Homo sapiens: one gene and its partners. The protein of the gene in region 1 interacts with the protein of each later gene in a pairwise test. Each region holds a gene or a part of one and is shown in the gene's direction. Other genes may lie near its edges.

What was found.
Region 2: the proteins of BAG3 (region 1) and UNKL interact in binary tests that used the Homo sapiens proteins (3 or more experiments, as listed by UniProt).
Region 3: the proteins of BAG3 (region 1) and RETREG1 interact in binary tests that used the Homo sapiens proteins (3 or more experiments, as listed by UniProt).
Region 4: the proteins of BAG3 (region 1) and FAM168B interact in binary tests that used the Homo sapiens proteins (3 or more experiments, as listed by UniProt).
Region 5: the proteins of BAG3 (region 1) and RUNX1 interact in binary tests that used the Homo sapiens proteins (3 or more experiments, as listed by UniProt).
Region 6: the proteins of BAG3 (region 1) and alpha-crystallin A2 chain interact in binary tests that used the Homo sapiens proteins (3 or more experiments, as listed by UniProt).
Region 7: the proteins of BAG3 (region 1) and BOD1 interact in binary tests that used the Homo sapiens proteins (3 or more experiments, as listed by UniProt).

Annotation. Positions count from the first base shown.
Region 1 is NC_000010.11:119,675,380-119,678,319, forward strand, and holds the end of BAG3 (BAG family molecular chaperone regulator 3), read left to right. Parts: intron 1-1,084; coding exon 1,085-1,903; 3' UTR 1,904-2,440; downstream 2,441-2,940. UniProt on the Homo sapiens protein: Co-chaperone and adapter protein that connects different classes of molecular chaperones including heat shock proteins 70 (HSP70s), e.g. HSPA1A/HSP70 or HSPA8/HSC70, and small heat shock proteins (sHSPs), e.g. HSPB8.
Region 2 is NC_000016.10:1,397,705-1,401,204, reverse strand, and holds part of UNKL (putative E3 ubiquitin-protein ligase UNKL), read left to right. Parts: intron 1-1,695; coding exon 1,696-1,831; intron 1,832-2,263; coding exon of another isoform or gene 2,264-2,363; exon of another isoform or gene 2,364-2,904; intron 2,905-3,065; coding exon of another isoform or gene 3,066-3,125; intron 3,126-3,500. UniProt on the Homo sapiens protein: May participate in a protein complex showing an E3 ligase activity regulated by RAC1. Ubiquitination is directed towards itself and possibly other substrates, such as SMARCD2/BAF60b. Intrinsic E3 ligase activity has not been proven.
Region 3 is NC_000005.10:16,606,998-16,610,497, reverse strand, and holds part of RETREG1 (reticulophagy regulator 1), read left to right. Parts: intron 1-3,500. UniProt on the Homo sapiens protein: Endoplasmic reticulum (ER)-anchored autophagy regulator which mediates ER delivery into lysosomes through sequestration into autophagosomes.
Region 4 is NC_000002.12:131,069,461-131,072,960, reverse strand, and holds part of FAM168B (myelin-associated neurite-outgrowth inhibitor), read left to right. Parts: exon of another isoform or gene 1-939; intron 940-1,022; coding exon 1,023-1,106; intron 1,107-3,500. UniProt on the Homo sapiens protein: Inhibitor of neuronal axonal outgrowth. Acts as a negative regulator of CDC42 and STAT3 and a positive regulator of STMN2. Positive regulator of CDC27.
Region 5 is NC_000021.9:34,787,303-34,790,802, reverse strand, and holds the end of RUNX1 (runt-related transcription factor 1), read left to right. Parts: 3' UTR 1-3,002; downstream 3,003-3,500.
Region 6 is NC_000021.9:6,558,203-6,561,595, forward strand, and holds part of alpha-crystallin A2 chain, read left to right. Parts: intron 1-1,869; 5' UTR 1,870-2,580; coding exon 2,581-2,769; intron 2,770-3,393. UniProt on the Homo sapiens protein: Contributes to the transparency and refractive index of the lens. In its oxidized form (absence of intramolecular disulfide bond), acts as a chaperone, preventing aggregation of various proteins under a wide range of stress conditions.
Region 7 is NC_000005.10:173,610,151-173,613,650, reverse strand, and holds part of BOD1 (biorientation of chromosomes in cell division protein 1), read left to right. Parts: intron 1-395; coding exon 396-520; exon of another isoform or gene 521-524; intron 525-3,500. UniProt on the Homo sapiens protein: Required for proper chromosome biorientation through the detection or correction of syntelic attachments in mitotic spindles.

The DNA of each region.
Region 1 (2,940 bases):
AAACCTGTGCAGCCAGAGGTTAGCACAGAGGCGCTGTGTCATTGCTGAATGTTAGGCTACAGCACAGCTATCCTGAAGCAAAATTGTTCTGGAGTTAACCATTTAGAGCATCTTGGCTAATCCTAAAAAAATACATTGGTCTGGGCAGAAACTACTAGGCTGTCACGGTTTTAAAAAAAGAAGATCGTATCTTTTCTAAAACAGGAGACAAGAAGATCACACCGTGAGCAGACTGTCTGCACAGTGTAAGGAAGAAGGACCAGAGGCAGCGACTCCAAGGCTGCAACACCTGAGAGCTGGAGTCACTCAGGACTCTGCTCTGAGTCAGCCTAGTTCAGCAGTCAGCATGAGTTTTTGCTATTTTTTTCCTTCTTTCCTTCCTTCCTTCCCTCCTTCCCTCCCCCTCCCTTCCCCCCTTCCCCTTCCCCCCTTCCCTGCTTCCTTCCCCCTTCCCCCTTCCCTCCTTCCTTCCTGCCCCCTTCCCCCTTGCCCCCTTCTCCCCTTCCTTCCTTCCTTCCTTCCCCCCTTCCTTCCTTCCTTCCTCCCTCCCTCCCTTCCTTCTTTGAGACAGGATCTCGCTCTGTCACTCAGGCTGGAGTGCAATGACATAATCGTGGCTCACTACAGCCTTGAATTCCTGGGCTCAAGCGATTCTTCCGCCTCAGCCTTCTGAGTAGCTGGGACTACGAGTGCAAGCTCCCACACCTGGCTAATTTTTAAAGATTTTTTGTAGGGTTGGGGTCTTACTATATTGCCCAGGTTAGCTATTTTCATTTTTGAAAATTTTATTGGGTTTCTTTTCATTGCCATTAAGAATACCATCTACAGAGAAATTCAGTGAGAGGTAATAGACAAATAGCCTGGGGTGATCAATGGAAGCCTGACTAATGATTGGGTTACATACATGATTAATACCATGTTTTTATTTTGTAACAGCCATTGATTGACTTTGAAAATCTTTTATACTATTAAACTTTTTTTAAAAAGCCATTTCTCAGTTTTCTTTCTAATCTGTACTAGCTACAAACAATTTCTGTGACTTTCAGTCAGTTATTAAAAATATATTTTTGTGTCCTTTTTTCAGCAGCCCATGACCCATCGAGAAACTGCACCTGTTTCCCAGCCTGAAAACAAACCAGAAAGTAAGCCAGGCCCAGTTGGACCAGAACTCCCTCCTGGACACATCCCAATTCAAGTGATCCGCAAAGAGGTGGATTCTAAACCTGTTTCCCAGAAGCCCCCACCTCCCTCTGAGAAGGTAGAGGTGAAAGTTCCCCCTGCTCCAGTTCCTTGTCCTCCTCCCAGCCCTGGCCCTTCTGCTGTCCCCTCTTCCCCCAAGAGTGTGGCTACAGAAGAGAGGGCAGCCCCCAGCACTGCCCCTGCAGAAGCTACACCTCCAAAACCAGGAGAAGCCGAGGCTCCCCCAAAACATCCAGGAGTGCTGAAAGTGGAAGCCATCCTGGAGAAGGTACAGGGGCTGGAGCAGGCTGTAGACAACTTTGAAGGCAAGAAGACTGACAAAAAGTACCTGATGATCGAAGAGTATTTGACCAAAGAGCTGCTGGCCCTGGATTCAGTGGACCCCGAGGGACGAGCCGATGTGCGTCAGGCCAGGAGAGACGGTGTCAGGAAGGTTCAGACCATCTTGGAAAAACTTGAACAGAAAGCCATTGATGTCCCAGGTCAAGTCCAGGTCTATGAACTCCAGCCCAGCAACCTTGAAGCAGATCAGCCACTGCAGGCAATCATGGAGATGGGTGCCGTGGCAGCAGACAAGGGCAAGAAAAATGCTGGAAATGCAGAAGATCCCCACACAGAAACCCAGCAGCCAGAAGCCACAGCAGCAGCGACTTCAAACCCCAGCAGCATGACAGACACCCCTGGTAACCCAGCAGCACCGTAGCCTCTGCCCTGTAAAAATCAGACTCGGAACCGATGTGTGCTTTAGGGAATTTTAAGTTGCATGCATTTCAGAGACTTTAAGTCAGTTGGTTTTTATTAGCTGCTTGGTATGCAGTAACTTGGGTGGAGGCAAAACACTAATAAAAGGGCTAAAAAGGAAAATGATGCTTTTCTTCTATATTCTTACTCTGTACAAATAAAGAAGTTGCTTGTTGTTTGAGAAGTTTAACCCCGTTGCTTGTTGTTCTGCAGCCCTGTCTACTTGGGCACCCCCACCACCTGTTAGCTGTGGTTGTGCACTGTCTTTTGTAGCTCTGGACTGGAGGGGTAGATGGGGAGTCAATTACCCATCACATAAATATGAAACATTTATCAGAAATGTTGCCATTTTAATGAGATGATTTTCTTCATCTCATAATTAAAATACCTGACTTTAGAGAGAGTAAAATGTGCCAGGAGCCATAGGAATATCTGTATGTTGGATGACTTTAATGCTACATTTTAAAAAAAGAAAATAAAGTAATAATATAACTCAAAATGGTTTTTGTGGTTTCTAAATCTTTGAAAGCAGTGGCATCATGGAGATTGTCTGTCCCTGGTTTCAGTCAGAATAAATGACAGGTGCATTTAACAAGCCTGCTTTGGGTTTTGTGACGTCTCCAATAGCCCGGCTCAAGAGAGAATTGTCTTGGTCACCTTTCAGTCTCAGATTGCAACAGGAACCTGGGAAGACTCAGGGCTGTGAACTCCGGTAATGGGAACATGCCTGCTGCATCCGTTCGGACCGACCCAGCCAACAGCCAAGGTGCCAGTTAGGTAGCATGTCTGCCCACCTGTCCTCAGGCCTCACCAAGAAGCTGAGATTGTCCAAAAGTGCCCAGAGGGCCTGGCGCAATGGCTCACACCTGTTATCCCAGCACTTTGGGAGGCCAAGGCAGGAGGATCCCTTGAGGCCAGGAGTTTGAGACCAGCCTGGGCAACATAGCAAGACCCTGTCTCTACAAAAAACAAATCAGCCAGGTGGTGGCATGCGTCTTC
Region 2 (3,500 bases), on another chromosome or scaffold:
CAGCCCACCAGGCACCCACCAGGATGCCCAGCAGAGCCCCCAGCCCTGCGCCTCTCTGGGGTGGTGCTCTAGACAGCAGCTTTCAAATCCCTGAGCTTGGCCAGAAACATATGGACCAGGGGGCTGTCCCTCGGGGCTGGGGGACCTGCATTCCTGGCTGGCACACAGATGAGGTTATATGCAGGGGAGATTTTGATTTGAAAAAAAACGTGGTAAGGCTGGGAGCACTGGCTCACGCCTGTAATCTCAGCACTTTGGGAGGCCGAGGCGGGCAGATCACTTGAGGTCAGGAGTTTGAGGCCAGCCTGGCCAACATGGTGAAACCATGTCTCTGCTAAAAATACAAAAAATTAGCCGGTTGTGGTGGTGGGCGCCTGTAATCCCAGCTACTTGGGAGGCTGAGGCTGGAGAATCTCTTGAACTCGGGGGGTGAAGGTTGCAGTGAGCCAAGATCACGCCACTGCACTCCAGTGTGGGTGACAGAGTGAGACTCCGTTTCAAAAAAAAAAATGTAAAATACACACAACATAAAATGCACCATTTTTAAGTGTACAGTCCAGTGGCATTTAGCACGTCTGCAGTGTTGTGCAGCTGCCACCTCTCTCTAGTTCCAGAACATTCCATCCCTGCAGAAGGAACCCCCCTGCTTATGAGCAGTTCCTCCCCATCCCCTCCCTGGTCCCTGCACTCACTGGCCTGCATCCCATCTCTGTGAATTTGTGTATTCTGGACATTGCGTATGGCAGCGATTTTTTTTTTTTTTTTTTTTTTTTTTTTTTTTTTTTTTGAGATGGAGTCTCGCTCTGTCACCCAGGCTGGAGTGCAGTGGCACAATCTCAGCTCACTGCAACCTCCGCCTGCCAGGTTCAAGCAATTCTCCTGCCTCAGCCTCCTGAGTAGCTGGGATTACAGGCAGGCACCAGTATGCCCGGCTAATTTTTTATTTTTAGTAGAGACGGGGTTTCACTGTGTTGGCCAGGCAAGTCTTGAACTCCTGACCTTGTGATCCACCCACCTCGGCCTCCCAAAGTGCTGGGATAACAGGCGTGAGCCACCACGTCCGGCCCAGTGAATGACTTCTAAAAATAGGCTTTATTTTTTAGAGCGGTTTCCGGTTCACAGCAAAACTGAGTAGAAAAATAGATTTCCCAAACACCCCCTGCCCCCTCAGCCTCCCCTGCCGTGCACCTCCTGCACTGCGAGGTACGCTCTTTACCAACAGTGAACCCACACTGATGTGTGCTTGTCACCCAGAGGCTGTGGTGCGCATGAGGCTCACCATGCGGCATTTCGGGGTGTGCATGTCTCTGGATTTTAGCATATTCTCAAAAGCTGTGCACACATCACCTCTCTCTAGTTGGAGAACATTTTCATCCCCCAGCAAGGAAGCCGCACACCCACAGCAGGACTCCCTCCCAGCCCTGGTGGTCTCGGCTCCACTCCGTCTCTGTGGGTTCCCTAGTTCTGGGCATTTTCACATAAACAGAATCACACCACGTGGCCTTCTGGCCCGGCTTCCCTCATGGAGCGCGAGTCCTTTGACATCAGCGTGTGCCGTGGCGTGTGTCTGCGCTCCCCAAGTCCTCCTGCAGCCCCTTCCATTTGGGGGACAGCCAGGTCCTTCCACCTTTGGTCTCCTCTGCCCAGCATTGCTTCCAGTCGCGCTGCTCAGGCACCGTGTGGCCCATTTTTCAGATGCCAACTTCGTGCTGGGCAGCTACAAGACGGAGCAGTGCCCGAAGCCGCCACGCCTGTGCCGCCAGGGCTATGCGTGCCCACACTACCACAATAGCCGGGACAGGCGGCGCAACCCCCGGCGGTTCCAGTACAGGTGAGCCTGCGGGACCGTGCTCAGAGGACTCCGGCTGGTGGGCGTCCTTCCCGGCCCGTGGCTCGCGTTGCCCACCCCGGGGTTCTAATGGGAGGGCTGCCCTTGTGGCACCATCATCCCCGGGAGGGGAGGGCATCTCCAAGCACAGTGGCTGTGGGAGGTGCCATGGAGGCCCACGCGTCTGTCCTGGGGATGGGCCTCCCCACCTACGCTCAGTGTCTCCCATGCAGTCCCCTACCGGGGCCCCTCTGCCAGGCAAGGGGACGGAGCACTGCAGGAGGGACCCCAAGCCCAGCTGGGACCCCCGTGTGCCCCACCCGTGCCTCTGGTTGCAGCCACGCTCTCCAGCCTGTGGGCTGCATGCTGTCTCCTCACCCAAGCTGCCAGGGGCTCAGGCACTGTCGTCACCTGGGCTCAATCTTGTCTTCACAGCTGGCAGCTGGGACGCCGGGTCCTTAGGCTGAGTCCCAGGGCCAACAACCCAAGGGTCGCCCTGCCCAGGGTGCACACAGGACCTTCCTCCACCGCCTGAGCCCCAGCTGTCCCCTGGGTCTGGCTTGTGGGTTTGGCACCTCGCAGCCTGCTTGCCTCTGAAGCCCCTTTCTCCTCCTTGCTCCAGCCCGGCCTTCTGGTTGTGCCTGGCCTGGCTTGCCTCCTGTCTGCAGTTTGCACCTGAGAGGGGGGTGGGGGGGTGCAGACCCCACAGGGTGTCTGGATGCCTGGGCCATGGCCTTGGCCTCCCTGAGGCCCTGTCTGTGTCCAGCTCTTCCTTTGAGCAGAGAGCCACCCTCGCCTCTTTTGAATGACCTGGTGCTGCCTCGCATGCCCCGGAGAGCACCTGTGCTTCCTTTGGGAAGGACGCCCCACTCCTTGTTGTTATGCCACGTTCAGTCTCCCTCTGAGCAGCTTCCGAGTAAAGGACCTGAACGGCTGTAGAACAAACCACAAATTAGTGTCTGAGATTTTGTCATCGCCCGTCATGGAAAGAAAATAAAAATTATTTTTTCAACAGGCACTTAATGTGTCCCATAAATACAAATCAGTTACAATAAAGCAGCTAGAGATTCCACGAAGAGTAGAGGATTTTGTTTTTTTATGAGACAGAGTCTCACTCTGTGGCCCAGGCTGGAGTGCGGTGGTGCAGTCTCAGCTCACTGCAGTAGGAACATAGGTAATTTGAAATTGGTGCGGAGTTTTAAATTGTGGGATCAAAACTCTCGCTTCCATTTTATAGAAAGTTGGCGAGGAGACAGCCCCGTGCTGTCTGGGCGCCCGGCCTCACTGTCCCCAGGAGGTTCGGCTGCTTCTCCCCTGCGTTCTCCACGTCCGTGAGGGTGGCTCTGACTGAGACTCAAGTTAAATTCTGTGAAGAACAGCCCCGGGGCTCCTGACCCCATCCTGGCACTGGCCGGGCCTGCGTGTCCGTGAGCGCAGAGCTGCGTTGCCTGTCACTCCAGGGCCCCATGCCCGAGGCCCCTCCTGGTGGGAGGCAGACACCCCTGGGCACACGAGGAACCATGTTTTCCTGTGTCCCCCTGACACCTCCTCATCCCCAGGTCCACGCCCTGCCCCAGCGTGAAGCACGGGGGTCGGGGTGGGGGAGCCAAGTCCTCTGTGTCCCCCTGACACCTCCTCATCCCCAGGTCCATGCCCTGCCCCAGCGTGAAGC
Region 3 (3,500 bases), on another chromosome or scaffold:
GCAAAAATTTTCTCCCATTCTGTAGGTTGCCTGTTCACTCTGATGGTGTGATTTGGTTTTGGACCCATGGTTGGAGACCATGGCATTTAGAAAAGTCCATGCATAGGCCTTTTTCCTTAGTGCCTGTGGCATTGCATGATGATGGCATTACCTTCTATTGGTATAAATAGTAAAACTGTAGGAAAGTGATTTGCCTGAGGTGTCCACGCAGGGGCACCCCTGGCGGGAGACCTGGGTCACTCTGACTTTTCAGGCGTCTCAGGCTGGGCACCAGGCAGTCCTGAATGCCAGCAGGACCTACCGAGTCAAATTGTTTTGGAAGGTTGCAGGGTTCAACCTCCCACTTGATGTCAAGCACCCCTTCTCTGCCAGCCTGAATGGGGTGCCCCAGCTTGCGTTAGAGCCATGGCTCTCAAAGTGAGGTCCTGGGCTAGCAGCATCCACATCACCAGTGTCACCTGGAGATGCAAAATCATGGGCCTCCTCCACACTCACTGAACAGGAATCTCTGCAGGTGGGCCCAAAGCATCTGGGTTTTCTCCAGCTCTCTAGGTGATTCAATACATGTTCCAGTTTGAGAACCATTATGTTTGAGCACTTTCTGGAATTGTGAGCTGTCTTCTCCATAAGGCAGCATTTCCATTGCTGGGCGGCACTCACTGGTCAGTGTTTTCCTTACATGAAGGCCATTGCTTGATTGTCTCCGCAGCTGCCCAGGATGTAGGCCCCTCCCCAGGATCGCCCTTTGTGTGTTTCAAAATCCATTCTCTTCTTGGTTCCCACTGAGTCTTCTCTTCCCCGGCTGAGAAATCCTGGGCCCTTCCACTCACCGCTGTCCTGTCTCGTTTGCAGATCCTTCTGGCCGGGCTTCAGTTCATCTGTATTCTGCCTGGAATGCAGCATTCCTTAGGTGGCCTGGCCGCTGCATACTCTCTCCCTTCCTCCTGGATGGCGTCCTTCTAGCCTCACAGCCTGAGATAGAATTTCTTTACTACAGTTGACAATAACTCCCTTTTACAGATGCTACTATCGCTGGTTGTTAGACTCTTAAAAATAAGTAAATATATATCATTTAGTGCTTTGTCAAAGTATGGCTATATGTATAGTTATATACAGTTACAGTTATATACAGTTACAGACTTCAGTAAAGTCAAACTTTACTAAAGTTATGATAAAGGGTGTTCACATGTAGCATCGTATTTAAACCTTGCAGGAACCCAGTGAGGCATGTGTTGTTCCCATTTTACACAGGAGGAAACAGGAGGCCCAGAAAAAAGTTAACTGAACACCAAAGATGACGTTGACCGGTACTGTTCAATAGAATGTTTGTAGTGATGGACATAGTCTGCCTTTGCACTGCCTGTTATGGTAGCTTCCTGTGGCTGTTGAGCATGTGAAGTGTGGCTAGTGGGACTCGGAATGCCATTTGACTTTTATTTAAGTGTAAGTTTAAATAGCCACACAAGGCTAGTAGCTGCTGTGTTAGCATAGTCTTAGATAAGTGCTGAAGCTGGGTAATGAAGCAGCGTCCATTTTCCCTAAATTCAATGATTTTTCTACCCCATCTCTCTAAAGAAAAATAGGAGACTATTAGGGCTTACTTTTTTCAATATTACAGAATCATACTTAATGATTTCAGCACAGAGTGAAAAAATTATATTGGGAGAGGGTTGCTTCTGCATGAATGGGAAGGATCTTTTTAGACTGTCAGCCAGCCTGGTCCAAGTTCCTCGCCTTATCTTTGTTCCGTCTGAGTAGTCGGTACCTGTGAATGAGTGTCTGCTCCCTACCCAGTGTGGTCAAGGGGGTATACCTGGGCCCAGGGGGTATACCAGAAGCCCAGTGCCTGAACTCAGAGAGCCTACCCACTGGTTTAGGAGACACAGCTGATTTGGTGAATCGATTGAGAGAGTATGTCACAGTTCCAAATTGCATGTCATGGTCTCCAGGGCTTTACAGTTGAGGACAAAGTGGGGATGAGGGAGGTTTGGAATAGCTGATGAAAGTCTTGTGAGATTTATTGTATAAGCCCAGAAGAAAAGGTATAGTTTTAAAAGTGAGGTTAATGGTGAGCGATTTCCATGTAGGACAAACTCAGGAAGAAATGGGAGATGAGCACTGGATGTTGTCAGGATGGAGAGACTCTCCTGACTCACACTGAGGGTCTGTTTTGGGGACAGATAATTAATCTTGGGTTGCCGGATCCACATGAGATCTGAAACACTGTAGATGTTAAAAAAGGTTTGGTGAAATGAGCTGGACTAGAGGATATTCCCCTATGGTGAATAAGGTGGGGCTATTTAAAGACAGTGAGAGTGGGCCGGGCACGGTGGCTCACAATTGTAATCTCAGCACTTTGAGAGGCTGAGGTGGGCATATCACCTGAGGTCAGGAGTTCAAGACCAGCCTGGCCAACATGGTGAAACTCCATCTCTATTAAAAATACAAAAATTAGCTGGGCATGGTGGCATGCGCCTGTAATCCCAGTTACTTGGGAGGCTGGGGCAGGAGATTCACTTGATTTCGGGAGGTAGAGGTTGCAGTGAGCTGAGATCACGCCACCCCACTCCAGCCTGGACGACAGAGTGAGACTCTGTCTCAAAAAAATAAATAAAAAATAAAAACAGTGAGAGTGGAGGGGAGGGGAGGGGAGGGGAGATTTATGTGCTTGCTAGGGGGAATACCCAGAGGTGAGGCTGCAAATTCAAAGGGTGGGGCCAGGTTTTGAAGAGGTTACTATTGGACCATGCTAAGGAATTTGGATGACATGAAATAAGCAATACCCATCTATTACCCTAATATTAATACCATAATATTCCTCCCTTTCTTTCAGGACCTCCATTAAAATATACAACAAGTATTTCTTTTTTTGTTTTTTTAAATTGAGACAGAGTGTTGCTCTGTCTTCCAGGCTGGAGTGCAGTGGTGTGATCTTGGCTCACTGCAGTCTCCGCCTCCTGGGTTCAAGCGATTCTCCTGCCTCAGCCTCCCAAGTAGCTGGGATTACAGGCACCTGCCACCACACCCAGCTAATTTTTGTATTTTTAGTAGAGACAGGGTTTTACCATGTTGGCCGGGATAATCTTGAACTCCTGGCCTCAGGTGATCTGCCCATCTTGGCCAGCCGAGCCACCACGCCTGGCCAAAATATGACAAATATTTCCTGAGTGTGTGCTATATGCTGACACTGTTCTTGGTGCGGGGGATATAACAGCGGACAAACAGGTGAGATCCCTGTTCTCCCAGAGCTTATATTCTAGTGGTGAAAGTGGTAAAAAAAAATACAATAAACAAATATACAAAATGCCAGAAAAGGCCGGATGTTATGAAGAAAACTAAAGCAAGGACAAGGGATAGAGAGTGACAGAAGTTACTACTTTGTTGGGTGGTCATCATTGGCCTTTCAGGAAAGGACCTTGAGTAGACACCTGAAGAGCAAGTCAGGGAATGATCCAAGCAGGTAACTCTGGAGGGGAGTGTTCCAGGCAGAGGGAATGGCA
Region 4 (3,500 bases), on another chromosome or scaffold:
AGGCTTAGCTGTTCACTGGTAGCAGCAAAAATAGGCCCTTGAGTCCAAGCTAGACTTGAATTCTGATTCTTCCAGACTTTGTGCAGTGAAGTCAGATGAGGGTAACAGGACCTAGCGTGTGATACCCTTAGCACTCTTACTACTCTTGCTAAGTAATTATGTGATTAGAGTTTGGAATGAAACTTCCAGAAATGTTATAATTGAGGCTTGGCGCGGTGGCTTATGCCTGTAATCCCAGCACTTCGGGAGGCTGAGGTGGGTGGATCATGAGGTCAGGAGTTCGAGACCAGCCTGGTCACCATGGTGAAACCTTGTCTCTACTAAAAATACAAAAATTAGCTGGGCGTGGTGGTAGATGCCTGTAATCCCAGCTACTCGGAAGGCTGAGGCAGGAGAATCGCTTGAAACGGAGGTTGCAGTGAGCCGAGGTCGCGCCACTGCACTCTAGCCTGGGCAACAAGAGTGAAACTCTGTCCCCCTCCAAAAAATAAATAAAAATAAAATATATAATTGTTACCTATCAAAATTCTGAGGGAAAGCCAGGCGTGGTGGCTCACACCTATAATCCCAGCACTTTGGGAGGCCGAGGCGGGTGGATCAACTGAAATCAGGAGTTCAAGACCAGCCTGGCTAACGTGATGAAACCCCGTCTCTACTAAAAATAGAAAAATTAGCCAGGTGTGGTGACACACACCTGTAATCCCAGCTCTTCGGAAGGCTGAGGCAGGAGAATCGCTTGAACCTGGGAGGCAGAGGTTGCAGTGAGCCAAGATCATGCCATTGCACTCCAGCCTGGGCGATGAAAGTGAAACTCTGTCTCAAAAGACGACAACGATAAAAAAAACAAAGTTCTGCGGGAAGAAGACAACTAGAGACATGCTGTTGGCCACACATAGTGCTCTTGGGGCTGCTTAAGTCTGTGGAGTTCTGGGGAAGAAGGTAAGAGCGATGGCTTTGCAGGAGCTCTAGTGATTGTCGCTACTTCAGTTGATGACATGAGATTGTTCTTTATTTTTCTTCAGCTGGTTTTCCCATGGGCTATGCAGCAGCAGCTCCTGCCTATTCTCCTAACATGTATCCTGGAGCGAATCCTACCTTCCAAACAGGTATGTGCTGGGTGGTAAAATGCTTTGTACGTACAGCTGGGAGAGAAAGGTGAAGGGGTGGATTTTGAGAGGGGTGGGTATAGAATTAGGACTTGGTTGAGTCGATTTCTCAAGTTCATTAAGTTAGCCTGTTGATAAGTGCAACAAAAGCTTAATTCTTACTGCACTGAAGCTTTATATACTGTGTTTCTCATGTCCTCCCACAAGGCAAATCTGTAATCACTAGGTTGTTAACTCTGCCAGAGCATCTGTTCATGAAATAGTATCACCTACTAGAAATTGAAGAATTTCTTGCCATGCCAACAGGTGGAATTTCCATGTTAATGTTTTTAGAGATAATTTTTGGTTAGACTACTTTAGCACTCTGATAATATTTTTTAAAAAAGTATTATTTTCCATGTAATGTATAGATGAATATTTTTAGATTTTGGAAATCACTGTTAATATTAAAAGTGGAATTGGTTTGGGTCTGAATCTTGAGGAGATTGGTTATTTAGTGGGATTTCCTGCTAGGAGCCTGCACTCTCTGGTGTTGGTTCCTTTTGGACTTTTTTCACCCACACGGGGCTTTGCCTTTCTGCCGCAGCAGTGGTGGTGCACACTCTGATCTGAGGCTGTGGTTTGGCCTTAATCCTGGGACTGCTGGGGCAACTTTATCCCTCAACAGTAGCTTCACACAGTTAACTTTGACAGAGGAGGAGACAACAGCAGTGTCCTTTCCCCAGATTCTTCCTGTTTTGTTAATCATAAAATTCTGCCTTTATATTCTGTCCTTACATCCATCTCTTCGTTTCCATTTCCACTTCCACTATGACCCTATATGACCACCCTTGTTCAGACCGTAGTTCACACCCTGAGAAAAACGTTCTTGACTTGGTCTTCCTGCTCCCAAGCTTTCTTTCCCCGGGTTAGTGTTCTTCCCATTTAAACCAGAGCGATGCTCCCAGATGAATTTTTCTCAGTGGTTTCCCATGACTGTGAGACACAGTTATGCCTAGAGTCTCGACTTTCAGTCCCTAGCTGTTTGCCATATTGGCCCATTTTTTCCCTTTAGAGTGGTTTTCCTTTTGTGTTTTGCCTTGAAAGAACCATCCATCTCGTAGTGTATATTAGCAGTTCATTCCTTTTTATTGTTAGGTAGTATTTTGTTGTATGGAAATAAATACTTCAGTTTGCTTATCCATTTACCATGTGATGAACATTTGGGTTATTTGCAATTTTGGGCTATTACAAATGAAAATGCTATTAATATTTATATGCAGGTTATTGTGTGAACATACACTTTGATTTCTCTTGAGTAAATAAATACAGAGGATTTGAGTGGCTGGTTATTATGGCAAGTGTATATTTAACTTTGTGAGAAACTGCCAAACTGTCTTCCAAAGTGGTGGTACCATTTTACATTCCTACCAGCAGTGTTTGTGAGTTGTCGTTCCTCCACATCCTTAACAACACTTGGTGTGGTCAGTCTTTTTAATTCTAGCCATTCTAGTGAATGTGTAGCAGTATCTTTTCATGTGCGTATTTGCCTTCTGTATGTCTTTGGTGAAGAATTTGCTTTTACTGTATGTCAGTTATTGTTTTCTTATCGTTGAGTTTTTGAGAGTTCTTATCAGATATATGCGTGTTTTCTCCCAGTCTGTGGCTTTTTCATTCTTTTAACAACGTCTTTTAAAGAGCAGGGGTTTTAAAAGTTTAGGCTGGGCGCGGTGGCTCACGTCTGTAATCCCAGCAATTTGGGAGGCTGAGGCGGGTGGATCATGAGGTCAGGAGTTCGAGACCAGCCTGGCCAACGTGGTGAAACCCCGTCTCTACTAAAAATACAAAAATTAGCTGGGCTTGGAGGCGCACTCCGGTAATCCCGGCTACTAGGGAGGCTGAGGCAGGAGAATCACTTGAACCCAGGAGACAGAGGTTGCAGTGAGCCGAGATCGTGCCATAGCATTCCAGCCTGGGCGACAGGGTGAGACTCCGTCTCAACCAAAAAAAAAAAAGTTTGATGAGGGTTAGTCGTTTTATGGATCATGCTTTTGGTACCATACTTAATAAACCTGTGTAACTTGGCTGGGCGCAGTGGCTCACGCCTGTCGTCCCAGCACTTTGGGAGGCCGGGGTGGGTGGATCATGAGGTCAGGAGATCGAGACCATCCTGGCTAACGCGGTGAAACCCCCTCTCTACTAAAAATACAAAAAATTAGCTGGTCATGGTGGCGGGCTCCTGTAGTCCCAGCTACTCCAGAGGCTGAGGCAGGAGAATGGCCAGAACCTGGAAGGCGGAGCTTGCAGTGAGCCGAGATTGCGCCACTGCACTCCAGCCTGAGCGACAGAGCAGGACTCCGTCCCCAAAAAAAAAAACAAAAGAGAAAGAAACCTGTGTAACCTAACTTCACAAAG
Region 5 (3,500 bases), on another chromosome or scaffold:
ATTTAAGGGCCCACCAGAAGCAGGCCTCGAGGAGTCAATTTGCCTCTGTGTGCCTCAGTGGAGACAAGTGGGAAAACATGGTCCCACCTGTGCGAGACCCCCTGTCCTGTGCTGCTCACTCAACAACATCTTTGTGTTGCTTTCACCAGGCTGAGACCCTACCCTATGGGGTATATGGGCTTTTACCTGTGCACCAGTGTGACAGGAAAGATTCATGTCACTACTGTCCGTGGCTACAATTCAAAGGTATCCAATGTCGCTGTAAATTTTATGGCACTATTTTTATTGGAGGATTTGGTCAGAATGCAGTTGTTGTACAACTCATAAATACTAACTGCTGATTTTGACACATGTGTGCTCCAAATGATCTGGTGGTTATTTAACGTACCTCTTAAAATTCGTTGAAACGATTTCAGGTCAACTCTGAAGAGTATTTGAAAGCAGGACTTCAGAACAGTGTTTGATTTTTATTTTATAAATTTAAGCATTCAAATTAGGCAAATCTTTGGCTGCAGGCAGCAAAAACAGCTGGACTTATTTAAAACAACTTGTTTTTGAGTTTTCTTATATATATATTGATTATTTGTTTTACACACATGCAGTAGCACTTTGGTAAGAGTTAAAGAGTAAAGCAGCTTATGTTGTCAGGTCGTTCTTATCTAGAGAAGAGCTATAGCAGATCTCGGACAAACTCAGAATATATTCACTTTCATTTTTGACAGGATTCCCTCCACAACTCAGTTTCATATATTATTCCGTATTACATTTTTGCAGCTAAATTACCATAAAATGTCAGCAAATGTAAAAATTTAATTTCTGAAAAGCACCATTAGCCCATTTCCCCCAAATTAAACGTAAATGTTTTTTTTCAGCACATGTTACCATGTCTGACCTGCAAAAATGCTGGAGAAAAATGAAGGAAAAAATTATGTTTTTCAGTTTAATTCTGTTAACTGAAGATATTCCAACTCAAAACCAGCCTCATGCTCTGATTAGATAATCTTTTACATTGAACCTTTACTCTCAAAGCCATGTGTGGAGGGGGCTTGTCACTATTGTAGGCTCACTGGATTGGTCATTTAGAGTTTCACAGACTCTTACCAGCATATATAGTATTTAATTGTTTCAAAAAAAATCAAACTGTAGTTGTTTTGGCGATAGGTCTCACGCAACACATTTTTGTATGTGTGTGTGTGTGCGTGTGTGTGTGTGTGTGTGAAAAATTGCATTCATTGACTTCAGGTAGATTAAGGTATCTTTTTATTCATTGCCCTCAGGAAAGTTAAGGTATCAATGAGACCCTTAAGCCAATCATGTAATAACTGCATGTGTCTGGTCCAGGAGAAGTATTGAATAAGCCATTTCTACTGCTTACTCATGTCCCTATTTATGATTTCAACATGGATACATATTTCAGTTCTTTCTTTTTCTCACTATCTGAAAATACATTTCCCTCCCTCTCTTCCCCCCAATATCTCCCTTTTTTTCTCTCTTCCTCTATCTTCCAAACCCCACTTTCTCCCTCCTCCTTTTCCTGTGTTCTCTTAAGCAGATAGCACATACCCCCACCCAGTACCAAATTTCAGAACACAAGAAGGTCCAGTTCTTCCCCCTTCACATAAAGGAACATGGTTTGTCAGCCTTTCTCCTGTTTATGGGTTTCTTCCAGCAGAACAGAGACATTGCCAACCATATTGGATCTGCTTGCTGTCCAAACCAGCAAACTTTCCTGGGCAAATCACAATCAGTGAGTAAATAGACAGCCTTTCTGCTGCCTTGGGTTTCTGTGCAGATAAACAGAAATGCTCTGATTAGAAAGGAAATGAATGGTTCCACTCAAATGTCCTGCAATTTAGGATTGCAGATTTCTGCCTTGAAATACCTGTTTCTTTGGGACATTCCGTCCTGATGATTTTTATTTTTGTTGGTTTTTATTTTTGGGGGGAATGACATGTTTGGGTCTTTTATACATGAAAATTTGTTTGACAATAATCTCACAAAACATATTTTACATCTGAACAAAATGCCTTTTTGTTTACCGTAGCGTATACATTTGTTTTGGGATTTTTGTGTGTTTGTTGGGAATTTTGTTTTTAGCCAGGTCAGTATTGATGAGGCTGATCATTTGGCTCTTTTTTTCCTTCCAGAAGAGTTGCATCAACAAAGTTAATTGTATTTATGTATGTAAATAGATTTTAAGCTTCATTATAAAATATTGTTAATGCCTATAACTTTTTTTCAATTTTTTTGTGTGTGTTTCTAAGGACTTTTTCTTAGGTTTGCTAAATACTGTAGGGAAAAAAATGCTTCTTTCTACTTTGTTTATTTTAGACTTTAAAATGAGCTACTTCTTATTCACTTTTGTAAACAGCTAATAGCATGGTTCCAATTTTTTTTAAGTTCACTTTTTTTGTTCTAGGGGAAATGAATGTGCAAAAAAAGAAAAAGAACTGTTGGTTATTTGTGTTATTCTGGATGTATAAAAATCAATGGAAAAAAATAAACTTTCAAATTGAAATGACGGTATAACACATCTACTGAAAAAGCAACGGGAAATGTGGTCCTATTTAAGCCAGCCCCCACCTAGGGTCTATTTGTGTGGCAGTTATTGGGTTTGGTCACAAAACATCCTGAAAATTCGTGCGTGGGCTTCTTTCTCCCTGGTACAAACGTATGGAATGCTTCTTAAAGGGGAACTGTCAAGCTGGTGTCTTCAGCCAGATGACATGAGAGAATATCCCAGAACCCTCTCTCCAAGGTGTTTCTAGATAGCACAGGAGAGCAGGCACTGCACTGTCCACAGTCCACGGTACACAGTCGGGTGGGCCGCCTCCCCTCTCCTGGGAGCATTCGTCGTGCCCAGCCTGAGCAGGGCAGCTGGACTGCTGCTGTTCAGGAGCCACCAGAGCCTTCCTCTCTTTGTACCACAGTTTCTTCTGTAAATCCAGTGTTACAATCAGTGTGAATGGCAAATAAACAGTTTGACAAGTACATACACCATATCCAATTGGTTTTGTCTTTCTCTGAGATGGAGGGTTGGGAAACTGAGTAAGGCCCACTGCACACACTAGGAAGATACCTCCAGTGAACAGCTTCAGGCTGAAGCTATGTCCTCACCCCCGGTGCTCCTAGCACACTCTGGCTTCTGAAGGCATGAGGGCCTGGAAAAGGCGCAGGCTCCCAGGGTTGCTTCTTTGCATATGAAAGAGCACTGAAGCATGTTTTAATGCTTGTTTTAAAAAATAATAATAGGCCGGCGCGGTGGCTCACGCCTGTAATCCCAGCACGTTGGGAGGCCGAGGCGGGCGGATCATGAGGTCAGGAGATCGCGACCATCCTGGCTAACACGGTGAAACTCTGTCTCTACTAAAAATATAAAAAATTAGCCTGGCGTGGTGGCGGCTGTAGTCCCAACTACTCAGGAGGCTGAGGCAGAAGAATGGCGTGAACCCGGGAGGCGGAAGTTGCAGTGAGCCGAGATCGCGCCACTGCACTCTAGC
Region 6 (3,393 bases), on another chromosome or scaffold:
GGAGGCTGAGGCAGGAGAATCGTTTGAACCCGGGAGGCAGAAGTTGCAGTGAGCTGAGATTGTGCCACTGCACTCCAGCCTGGGCGACAGAGCGAGACTCCATCTCAAAAATAAATAAATAAAATAAATAAGTAAATCAAAATGAATGCAAAAAATTTGTGGTGGACAAACTGTCAACATTTTACATAAAGCCAGGATGAGGACGACGGCCTTCTCCTTTTGCTTCAAGCTCCAGCATGGCTCTGCCCAGCACTGACCGTGCTCCTGGCCTGGCTCGACCCTCCCCAGGGCCAAGCTCCATGCTGGTTTCCATCCCAAAGGACTCTTCTTCCCCCTCCCTGTGCCCCGGGAATAGGCAGCCAGCACAGTGGGGCCGCCCGCTGCCTCACCCAGACCCTGCCACTGCTTGGATGTTGACCCCCAGACTGGAAAGGTGGCTTTAAACCCCCTTCCCTTCTTCCAAGCCAAGTGACCTGGGTGTGCGGCTTAACCTTCTAAGCTCCCATTTCCTGGTCTATGAAGCGGGAATGATGCTGGGACCTGCTTCACAGGGTGGCTCTGAGGACCCACAGGCAGAGAGGTCTGGTGTAGGCTTTCGGGGGAAGCACCCATCACTCTCCCAGCGTTTCCTATCTGCACCTTAATTTGGCACCCCAGGGAATCGCTCCTCTGGAATTGTAACCTTGCAGGGCAAAAGCTATCATTTCAAGATTTTTTGGGATCCTGTGTCCCCGGACAGTGCTGTAAATGTAGGAGGAAGGGTGCTGCTCATGGGTGCTGCTCATGATGGAGGTGCCCCGTGGAGCACGCCTCGGAGCCCCCCCTTTCATCCCTGATCCCATCTGGGATGTGTCAGGTCTGATCCGCATACACTGGGGCATCTGACATTTCATGGCCTTCTGAGCCCATGGGCTGGAGATGAATTTGCAAAGCCCGGGAGTGTCCTGGGTGTGTGTTCACTCCACACGCACGAATCTGTTAGAGGCTGAGTAGGAACTAGGAGGCCAAAGAGAACCAGGCAACTTCCCACAGCCTGGACCGTACACTAGAAAAGCTAGCCTGGGAGAGGGGGCATGGCCTCTTCCCAGGCTGGCAGGGGGGATGTGGGGGAGGACCATGCTCCCCAGGGCCAGTTTACCAAAATATCAAAATACCAAAATATCAAAAGACTTAAAACTAGGAGTGAGCCAGGTGCAGTGGCTCACGCCTGTAATCCTACACTTTGAGAGGCCAAGGCAGGTGGGTCACCTGAGGTCAAGAGTTTGAGACCAGCCTGGCCAACACGGTGAAACCCTGTCTCTACTAAAAATACAAAAATAATAATAATAATAATAATAATAATAATTAGCCAGGTGTGGTGGCAGGCACCTGCAGTCTCAGCTACTCAGGAGGCTGAGGTGGGAGAATTGTTTGAACCTGGGAGGCAGAGGTTGCAGTGAGCTGAGATCGCGCCACTATATGATCTGGGCGCCACTCTGGGTGACACAGCAAGACTCCATCTCAAAAACAAACAAACAAAACCGGGAGTGCCTGGACACTTAGTGAGAACTGGACAGGGGCCATGGGTCGAGGAGCAAAATAATCACCAGGACTTGTGGATAACAGGATCATGTGGGTGGTGGGTCCGCATGGGTGACAGGGACGTGGGGACATGTCGCCACCCTGACAGGAGCAGCCCAACTCAACAGCCACGGCAGGTCATGCCACGGAGGCTCGAGGCGTTACGTGGGGATGTTACATCAAGGCATTACATCATTACGAGATGTAACGCTCGAGGCGTTACATCGAGGGGATGATGGCCATGGGGCTGGGCGTCCAGGGTGGGCCGCAGAGGGAAGCTCACCACGTGGTGCTCTCATCTGCCCACAGCCCAGCCCGTCTTCCTGTTGGAGGCATGTGACCCCTGGAGGACAAGCATGAAACGCCATAGGGCTCCCCCAGGTGCTGGAATTATGGCACCTTGCAGCTTCTTCTCCACGAGTTTTAACAAGCATGCGTACTTTTGTAAGTGGTGAGTGTAACGGAGGTTCACAGATGCACTCCGCTTTGGAAACCAGTGCACTCTTGCCCAGGCCCGGTGAGACTCTGACGACGATGTGTCTAACCTCTGTGTCTAACGGGGGTGTGGGCTCTCCCTCCTCTGGCGACCATGAGGACCACCCCGGCAGGACAAGGTGTGCAGAGAACTAGCATGGTCCCTGGCACGTAGCCCCTGCCCAGTGACTGGCAGATGAGAAGCTCCATTGTCGCCCCAGGCGAGTATGGGGCACAGGCGCCTCCTTGGGTTGTCTGCCCTCCCGGGAGCCCCAGGGTGCCCAGGCGGGCCTCAGCTGAGTCCAGGCCTCGGGGACAGTCCGTGCAGCCCCTCCTGGGGCTGGGGGCGGGCACTTGTCCCAGCCACGTTTCTGCTGACTGAGCAGCCTTCTTCATGAGCTCACGCCTTTCCAGAGAAATCCCTTAATGCCTCCATTCTGCTGGTGGCATATATAGGGAGGGCTCGGCCTTGGCTCCACACTGCGCTGCCCAGAGGCCCCGCTGACTCCTGCCAGCCTCCAGGTCCCCGTGGTACCAAAGCTGAACATGGATGTGACCATCCAGCACCCCTGGTTCAAGCGCACCCTGGGGCCCTTCTACCCCAGCCGGCTGTTCGACCAGTTTTTCGGCGAGGGCCTTTTTGAGTATGACCTGCTGCCCTTCCTGTCGTCCACCATCAGCCCCTACTACCGCCAGTCCCTCTTCCGCACCGTGCTGGACTCCGGCATCTCTGAGGTAAGACGTGGCCCGTGGTGCTGGCCTCTCCTCGCTGCTCAGAGGGTGGTGGCCTCGGTGGGTGGAGAGCGATGGACTCTGGTCTTGCTCCGTCAGGCAGGTGGCCTCGTCCCACTTCATCCCCTTGCAGAGGCTGGGCGAGAGCCTGTGTCCCCACTGCAGCCACGTGGTAGAGCTTCCCCTGGCACTGGGGAGAGGGTGGACAAGGGAGCAGCCTGAATCCACCTTTGCTTTCCTCCATCAGCTCATGACCCATGTGTGCTTTGTAAGGCACCAGCCACATACTGGAAACCCCAAGAGCAGCCCATCCAGGCATGCGTGGTGGCGAATGCCAGCTCCCGGGTTCCTCTGGTCTCCTGAGTCCCGGAGACCTGGGAGCAGGTGGGGGTCATAGTCCTGAAAGCCAGAGAGCAGGGCGTTCCTAGCACCTCCTCCAATGAGCTCGGCCTGCCCACGGCTAGCAAAGCTCTTGGCAAGTTTACTTAGGTGCCCTGCCAAGGCTAAAAGGACAGGCAATGGACGCCCCCCCCCCCCACCCAACCACAGGCCTCCTCTCTGAGCCACGGGTGAGCGGTGCAGGTTCTGCTGTTCTGGAGGGCCTGAGTCCCACCCAGCACCTCATAA
Region 7 (3,500 bases), on another chromosome or scaffold:
GCAGCTTATAACCAGCACTTGTTCACATGTTCATGGGGCGGCAGGTCTACCAAAGTTCAGCTGAGCTAGGAAGGCTTCAGCTGGTGGCTTGGCTGCAGGCTGCCCAGGTGTGGGTCCAGGCTGTGGGTTGATGTCAGGCCTGCTGCATGTAGAGTTACTTAAAAGCAAATGGAATAATATAAGTAAAGCGCCTGGCATTGTGCCCACCCACCATCAGGTGGGCACTTGTGTTAACCATTAATTCCTGACTGCCACATTGCATGGTGATCTTCATGCACAGTGGAAGTGTATTTAGACTTAATAACGTTTCTGTGAAAAGCAGTGTTCTGAGAGACTAAGTTCAAAACTTTGGTGCATATAACTTCTGACCTTGCCTCCTCTTTTTAACATTTTAGCCAGCTTACCAAAACCTGAGGCAGAAAGTGGATAATTTTGTGTCAACACATCTGGACAAGCAGGAATGGAATCCTACGATGAACAAAAACCAGTTGCGAAATGGTCTGAGGCAGAGTGTGGTTCAGTAAGTAAGCAGAATTTAAAGCTTTTGAAAAGGCAGTCATCACAAGTGTGATGCACAAGAAGGTTGAGGTCTCTGTTTAGTCAAGGTTGATGGGACTTTATATCAAGTATCACTTAGGAGTTGCAGCAGTCTGCTCTTTTGTTATAATTAAGGTTAAAGGAAGCAAAGTACTCAGTTGAAATTCCAGTTTCTGCAGCCTGTGAAGGCCTCCTGTGTGCATCTCTACTGGGTGCATCAAAAGGCATTCCAAATCGTGAGACATTTTCCCTGCTCTTTGAAGTTTCAGTGTTGTCCAAACATATATGTGAGTTTTATACCAAGATATCAGGGTTTGGATCTTGGGCAAGAGGAGTTGGATCTTTATTCTCACAGGTGAATGTGAACTAAATAAATTCTTTGAGTCCACCAGGACTGCCACCTCTAAAGTGTAATGGTGACAGCTTTCAGGAAGGCATAGTCTTAATAAAGTATCGTACTTCACAGTAACAAACTGAACCTTAGTTAATAAAGGTGCTATTGATAGCTTATCTGAGTGACGCACAAAAGTGGAGGTGGAGGAGGGTACAGAAATGGGAGAACACATTAGTGATTGCCTGGGGTTACGGATGGGAGGAGGGGGTGAGTGTGACTTGCAAGTGGTAGCACAAGGGGGAGCTTGCAATGGTGCAGTTAAGTGTCACTGAATTGTGCTGTGCTCACGTGCAACAGCTCGTATGGTAAAGTCGCACGGAGCTACACACACAAATAAGTGCAAGTGTAACTGAAGTCTAAATAAGGTCTGGATTGGACCAGTGTCATTTTCCTGGTTTTGATATTGCACTAGTTACGCAAGGTGCTGACATTAGAGCTGGCTGGGTGAAGGGTGCGTGTGGAACTCCCTGGACTCTTCTTCACAACTTCCTGTGAATATGCAGCGATTTTAAGATTTCTAAAGTTTTTAAAAGTGTTTTACTAACAAGCTAGTACTTCCAATATGGCTGAATGCTGGGAAGAAGCCTGATAGCAGAAGATGCCCAGTGCCTTGTCATTCTGGAGTCAGTACCGAGTGCCTTTCCCTTTCTCCAGAGAACAGACTGGTGGCACCGGGCTCTTTCAGAAAGAAGGGGACAGTAGCTGCCCCTTACTGAGCAACTCTTTATTACATGTCTGGCACTGGTCTTTACATATATCACTCATCCTCATGAAAAGCCTGTTTCACAGCTAAAGTCACTTGTGTTTACCCTGTCTTGAGTAAATCAAAACACTGAACATTCTGAAATATTTGGAAAGTTGCCATGATTGTATGAAGGCTGTTAACATTGCTTTGATTTCTGTAATGAGCATGGATGTCATTCTAGAGGTATGCATGTGGCGCTTCCTCTTGCATTTCTTTAGTAGGAATTGTAATACGGAAAAGTGCACAGAAGTTCAGTGAAACAGATAATTAGAACATCCCTTGATCACCCAGATCGAGAAATGGACTCACACCCCCGAAACAGCCTAGCTCCGGATGTACTTTCCTCCTTTCGGAAGTTTTCCATATTCCTGACTTTTATACTAATCATTTCCTCTCTGCATAGTTTTTACCACCTCTGTGAAGTTGTTGTTTTTTTTTTTTTCCCTGCTTTTTGATTTGACTTAGAATGTGTTTAACCTGAAAACATGAACTTGGCTTTAATACTGGGACATTTCTCCACAATTCTTGCTAGCATTTTGAATTTGAGGCAAAATCTACTGGAGTTTCGAAACGCAGACTTTCTGCTTGCCCCCAGGTGCTCTCCCCAGGTGGACACTGCAGGCCTTCAGAGCATTGGCTCACTGGCCTGGCTGTTCTGGCCCAGATGCTGTAACCCAGTGCCACAGCCTAGAGGGTTTAACAGGAAATTAGCCTGTGCTATTGCACTGAATTATGACGAATAACTCTTGTAACTGTACAATATTTGTTTTTTCCATCTTGTACATTGGGCTCCTGACAAGATTTTATGTTTTCCTCAAAAGTTTAAGAATCTCCAGGAAAGTGAGCTGCACTCCCTTGGTAGTTTGTTTCCCCTGATCAGGGGTTTTGGTCAGTTGGGGATGCTTTAACAAGGCGCCGTAGACTAGGTGGCTTGTAAACAATGGAAATTTACTTCTCACCATTCTGGAGGCTAGAAGTCCAAGACCAAGATGCCAGCATGGTCAGGTTCAGGGGAAGGCCTTCTTGCAGGCAGCAGACTGCCAACTGCTTGTTCTTCTCATGTGGTGGAAAGAGAGCTCGCTAACTTCCTGGGGTCCCTTTTGTAAGGGCATAAATTGCATTCGCGGAGGCTCTGCCCCCATGACCCGATCGCCTCCCAAAGGCCCTACCTCCAAAGGCCATCACATTAAGGATTAGATTTCAACATAGGAAGTCTGGGGGACACAGGCATTTAGTTGATAATATCAAGCTTTTACATCTGGTAAAGGACCCTGTGAATCCGACTCAGGAAGTGGTTTGGTAAAGTTGGAAAGGTATTGGCTTGTGACTGAGGAGAGGTGGCTTTCCTTTGTTAGCATCCCATAGCCGGATGCTAACTTTGCTGTATTTAACGATGCTCATCACTAAGGGCCGATACTGTCTAATGCCTGGTCTACCTGAAAATGTGCCCTTCAGTGCTCTAGTGGTGGTGTATTTACATCTAGGCTTCCTGTCGATAAGCTGTTAGTTACCATTGAATCCAGGGAGCACTTTACACACTAATCATCTTTCCCAGTTCACAGCCTGTTTCTTATCTTCTTTGTCATGATGTACATTTACTCATGTCTTTCCTTTGCTGTACCCTGACAGACCATTTGCCCACTTGCTGCCCAGCCTATTTTTACCCGAAGGCTTAAATGGCCTCTGAAGTCTCAAGTCTACGGGAAAATAAGTAAAACCTGCCCACATGCTTGTGATGGTATTGGAATATTTCAGTCCTTTGAGAAGAACACTTCACTTTGAACCTTACGGGCTATTTTCCAGACTGTCCAAATATGATTTGTT